Linked DNA regions of Homo sapiens. The protein of the gene in region 1 interacts with the protein of each later gene in a pairwise test. Each region holds a gene or a part of one and is shown on either strand. Other genes may lie near its edges.

What was found. Proteins that work in one complex are often made in the same cells at the same time.
Region 2: the proteins of IL16 (region 1) and TFIP11 interact in binary tests that used the Homo sapiens proteins (3 or more experiments, as listed by UniProt).

Annotation. Positions count from the first base shown.
Region 1 is NC_000015.10:81,199,879-81,203,378, reverse strand, and holds part of IL16 (pro-interleukin-16), read right to left. Parts: intron 2,979-3,500; exon of another isoform or gene 2,909-2,978; intron 1-2,908. UniProt on the Homo sapiens protein: Interleukin-16 stimulates a migratory response in CD4+ lymphocytes, monocytes, and eosinophils. Primes CD4+ T-cells for IL-2 and IL-15 responsiveness. Also induces T-lymphocyte expression of interleukin 2 receptor. Ligand for CD4.
Region 2 is NC_000022.11:26,493,107-26,495,473, forward strand, and holds part of TFIP11 (tuftelin-interacting protein 11), read right to left. Parts: intron 1,834-2,367; coding exon 1,691-1,833; intron 1,553-1,690; exon of another isoform or gene 1,199-1,552; coding exon 1,033-1,198; exon of another isoform or gene 1-1,032. UniProt on the Homo sapiens protein: Involved in pre-mRNA splicing, specifically in spliceosome disassembly during late-stage splicing events. Intron turnover seems to proceed through reactions in two lariat-intron associated complexes termed Intron Large (IL) and Intron Small (IS).

The DNA.
Region 1 (3,500 bases):
TAAAACACCAAAAGCAATGGCAACAAAAGACAAAATTGACCAATGGGATCTAATTAAACTAAAGAGCTTCTGCACAGCAAAAGAAACTACCATCAGAGTGAACAGGCAACTGACAGAATGGGAGAAAATTTTTGCAACCTACTCATCTGACAAAGGGCTAATATCCAGAATCTACAATGAACTCAAACAAATTTACAAGAAAAAAACAACCCCATCAAAAAGTGGGTGAAGGATATGAACAGACACTTCTCAAAAGAAGACATTTACGCAGCCAACAGACACATGAAAAAGTGCTCATCATCACTGGCCATCAGAGAAATGCAAATCAAAACCACAATGAGATATCATCTCACACCAGTTAGAATGGTGATCATTAAAAAGTCAGGAAACAACAGGTGCTGGAGAGGATGTGGAGAAATAGGAACACTTTTACACTGTTGGTGGGACTGTAAACTAGTTCAACCATTGTGGAAGTCAGTGTGGCGATTCCTCAGGGATCTAGAACTAGGAATACCATTTGACCCAGCCATCCCATTACTGGGTATATACCCAAAAGATTATAAATCATGCTGCTATAAAGACACATGCACACGTATGTTTATTGGGGCACTATTCACAATAGCAAAGACTTGGAACCAACCTAAATGTCCAACAATGATAGACTGGATTAAGAAAATGTGGCACATATACACCATGGAATACTATGCAGCCATAAAAAATGATGAGTTCATGTCCTTTGTAGGGACATGGATGAAACTGGAAACCATCATTCTCAGCAAACTATTGCAAGGACAAAAAACCAAACACTGCATGTTCTCACTCATAGGTGGAATTGAACAATGAGAACACATGGACACAGGAAGGGGAACATCACACACTGGGGACTGTTGTGGGTGTAGGGAGGGGGGAGGGATAGCATTAGGAGATATGCCTTCCAAATTTTCTATAGTCCTTGATGATGCTAAATTTTCATCACTCTTCAAACCCTATTTTTGGATAACACTTCTTTAAAATGAAACCACAAACCAATACAGACCCCCAAAGCTGTCTGTGCTCTGAGAACAGGTTCTTCCACTACCAAAGCACTCATCTGATGCTACTCCAGTGGCTTGTGTCACCACTGGTCATGTCTACTGAACTCTAAGCTCCCTGAGGGCAGAGTCTGTCTGTCATATTTCGAGTTGATCCATGAGGCCTAGCTTGGCGAATGGCCTCTATCAATTGCTCAGTAAATATTTGTTGAATGACTAAGGATGATTGCATTTAATGTTTAAAGGTGTTCTCTGGCCAGATAAAATGTATAAAGTAGGAAAAGACATTTTACATACTGTACAACACCTTTGCTTGGGCTAATTCTTCTGGGGAACTAATAGTTCACTTAGTAACCCCATCTCTGGTTCAAATCTGATGAATTGCCTATGCTTACTTGCCTTATATTGTAAGTGATCATCAAGATACATGGAATACTGTTGAGATATGGAGAAGAATGAGGTTAAGTCTTTTTGTGCTACATAGAATTGGAAAACAAAACATGCTGCAGCACAGTGTGTGCGCGTGTGTGTGTCTGATGCTAGAATAAATCAGAGAGAATACTCAACAAGCTGTTATTGAAGAGCAGAGAATGGGTAAAAACTGATTACTCTACATTTTACTAATTACAGCATTTTTACCAAACACAAAATTTAATATTAAAGATTAAAATACAAAGTGGCAATATAATAAATTGCTAATAAATTTGTATACACCACTTAACTACAACCTAAAAAGAAAAAGAGGGAAAAACAAAAACCACAAACTTAAAACAAAGAAACCCAAAATATGATCTGCCTACTGGAAGAAATAGAAGTAGGAAAGTGGCTCAAAAAGTTGTTCGTGGATGAACAACTAAGATCTCCTTCCTGGAGAACTAAGGGCAGGGCCATTAAATTAGACATTTCGTGATCTCTAAATAGAACTGAGAGGAGATTCAAAGAAATGCAAAATAACAGCTATAGAGCATTATGGAGTCTTTGGCCTGAAAGAATTTTTCAGATTTTGATGGTCCAACTGCTGTCATTTACTTCTGTGTGTGTGTGTGTGGATGGGGGTGTGTGCGTGCATGTGTGTGGGTGTATGTGTGATTGCTTTGGCTTGAGTTTTGGTAAGAAATTACATATCATGTCTTTTAAGATTATTTTTAGATATATTTCTCTTTTTCACCACACATACACACACACACACACAGAGACACACACACACTTTTTATTTTCTGCTTCTGACAACTAGCTCAATGCAGGGGATGCATTGTCCTGCCACTGCTTCAGTAAATGTGACAGGTATCCTGTGTTCTCAGCAACTGCTGCAGGATTCTCTGGCATCTGCACTTTGGCTGGAGTTGGCTACAACCATCCTTGGAGGATGAGGAGAAGGAAGGAAGAGAGGGAAAGCGCATAAGACTGGGCCACCTGTCCACCTTCTCCAACCCTCACCATTGCTCGAGGCTCTCTTAATCCATTTATGAGGAGGTAAGTACAGAAAAAAAGACAGATGAGCTTATGGCTGACTCAGGCCTGAAATCCTTGCCTTGGATAATGGGAAGAAGGCCATCTTTTTGAAAGAGAAGATCAGGAATATTTCAGTTACAATACTCTCCTGACACATTTTCACCATTCCAAACTCCACCCAGTGTTCTACAGGACTATTTATGAAACTTTTAAAATCTTGACCTAGGCTAGGCATGGTGGCTCACGACTTTAATTCCAGCACTTTGGGAGGTTGAGGCGAGCAGATCACTCGAGCTCAAGAGTTTGAGACCAGCCTGGCCAACATGGCAAAACCCCATCTCTAATAAAAATACAAAAAATTATCCAGGTGTGGTGGCGTGTGCCTGTAGTCCCAGCTACTCGGGAGGCTGAAGGGGGAGAATCACCTGAGCTCACGGAGTCAAGGCTGCAGTGAGCCGGGATTGCACTGCTGAACTCCAGCCTGGGCAACAGAGTGAGACCCTGTTTCAAAAAATAAATAGATAAATAAATAAAAATAATTTTTAAAGAATTTTAAAAATTAAAAAAATCTTGACTTACCATAATAATTTACATTTTACATCATAGTACATGGATCACATACACATAAGATTTATATGTATACATAAATAAATAAATATATATAACTAAAAACTTTCATGAAACAATACCTTTACTACGGTATAATAAAAATAATATAAAATATCTTTGGTATGAAAAAGATAATATAAAATATGATTTTGCTAAGAACCTGATGCAATCTGATGTATGCTATTCTTTTTTTGTTTTAGAAAAAGGAAGTTGGTTCCAACCCGCTAAGTTGATTTTCAATCCACTAGTGGGTCATGCTTGAAAACCACTACTTTCAGGTTTTCTCTGATTTTTTACAGCAATTCCATATGGGGTATTTGCTTTGATTCCTCATTTAGCTCCCTTCTTTGGGCCACTGAATCTTGTCATATGTGCATTGATTTTGCCGCATTTGCTCAGCCCTACTCA
Region 2 (2,367 bases), on another chromosome or scaffold:
AACCTCTGCCTCCCAGGTTTAAGCGATTCTTCTGCCTCAGCCTCCTAAGTAGCTGGCATTACAGGCATGTGCCACCGCGCCCGGCTAATTTTTGCATTTTTAGTAGAGACGGGGTTTCACCATGTTGGTCAGGCTGGTCTCGAACTCCTGACCTCGTGATCTACCCGCCTCGGCCTCCCAAAGTGCTAGGATTACAGGCGTGAGCCACCGTGCCTGGCCTAGGCTATTAAATAACAAGAATTAAAGACTCAGGAAATAGAAATTCCAGTTCTAACTGCCACCCTTTAACTATGTGACCTTGAACAGGCTCTCAGCCTCGCTGGGCTTATCTGTAAAACACAGACTAGACGATCCCATTTCAATGCTGCGAATCGGCTAATGAGCAACACTGGAGCACAGGACTGGTTGAAATAGGCTCCCAAATGTAGAAACATAAATATACTCTCACTTACTTATGATCTAGGCAGAATGACTTACCTAGAACTTGGGAACAGATATAGTACACGAACAGTGAACTGCCTGTTTTTGACAACACAGACACCACCTATTGAAGGCTATACACAAGCATGAACTCACTCTCCCTTTTAGCCTATAAAGTAGATCTTACTGTTTAACAGGTAAAATGGGGCTGATTAAGGCTGAGCAATCACCAAGTGTCAGACCGCGTGCCAAACTCCACACTGTAAGATGCGTCACCTAAGCAGCATGCTCAGGCATGAATGAGCCTTAAAAGGCCACACAGCACAGTGGTTAAGAGGGCGGGGCCTGGGGTTAGACTGACATCATCTGAATCCAGCTTAAGTCAGTCTCCACTCAGGGAAGATGCCCCTCTCAGTCATGGTAGACCTGGGCAGTGGGTGCCAGCTGACCATGTACCCCAGTCAGCAGGGTGAGAGTCTGTTGCTATGTGCAAAAGTGTGACCTAAGGTTTAGGCTGCCTACAGGAACCAGAAAACTCTGATTCTGTGTCATTTACATGTGTAAAATCTGAAACTTGGGGCCAGGACATCCAAAATGGGAATCCTCACTTACCAACGTTGGAGGACACCGCCCGGTTCATGATATCAAGTGCCTCATTAAATTTGTCCTTGACAGATGGATGTGCCAGCACTTGGTCTGAGAACATCGACTTCCAACCCAGGTACCACTTGGTGATCTCCTCATAATTTGGGCTGTTACTGAGCCAAGAGCACAGCACCTGCCAAAAAGAAAAATTACTTGCATCCATCGTGGCAACAAATGAAGGCAAGATTTCTGAAGTGGCCATTTGTTTTGTTTTGATCCTGGTCCTACAGGCTAGTGACACTACTTTACAGGGATTTATAGTAGCTAAACAGTCTAGCACTTATGAATATGGATTTTGGAGTCAGCCTGGTAGCTAAAGTGCCCTTGCATGTAAACTCTCTGAGCCTCAGCTTCCATGTCTACACAACAGGGATACCATATCCCCTACCCCATAGGGTTGCTGAGAGGAGCTGAGATAAAGCAAATAAAGTGCTTGGAACAGCTTCTGATACATGGCAAATGTCCAATAAATGGTGCCCACTATGAAGATGACCTAACTCATTCCTACCCTACCATGTAATTTATTTTCATTATGGAATTGTACCTACAGTCAGGCCTTGGCAGAAAATTAACTTAATCCCCACCCAGTTCCCTCCCCCAGAAATCCAAGCAAAACAAAGTGTACCTGAAGCCACTTGGGGAAGAAGTGCTTTTCAAGAAGTCCCACCAGGCTAGAGACAGAGATCATCCCTTCCCAGTCAATCACCCAATAGAATGCATCCATGTGCTGCTGGTGGGGGTTAATGACTAGCTCACCAAGACACATCCCTGGAAGAGAAACCCGGTCTGTAAGGCACAGCTTTAGTACTGGCAAAGCCAAAGAAGCACAAAGAGCAAAGACAATGTCCGTTTTCATCTCAGCTTACAGCAACCTCCGCCTCCCGGGTTCAAGTGACTCTTGTGCCTCAGCCTCCCGAGTAGCTGGGAGTACAGGTGTGCACCACCGTGGCCAACTAATTTTTGTGTTTTTATTAGAGACAGCGTTTTGGCATGTTGCCCAGGCTGGTCTCAAACTCCTGGTCTCAGGTGATCTGCCCACCTCAGCCTCCCAAAGGGCTGGGATTACAGGCATAAGTCACAACTCCTGGCTTTTTTTTTTTTTTTTTTTTTTTTTTTTTTTTTTTGTTGAGACAGGGTCTCACTGTTGCCCAGGCTGAAGTGCAATGGCAGATCTTGGCTCACTGCAACCTCTGCCTCCGAGGTTCAAGCCATCCTCCCGCCTCAGCCTCCCTAGTAGCTGGGACGACAGGCGCCCGCCACCACACCTGGCTGGTTTGTATTTTTGGTAGAGATGGGGTTTCA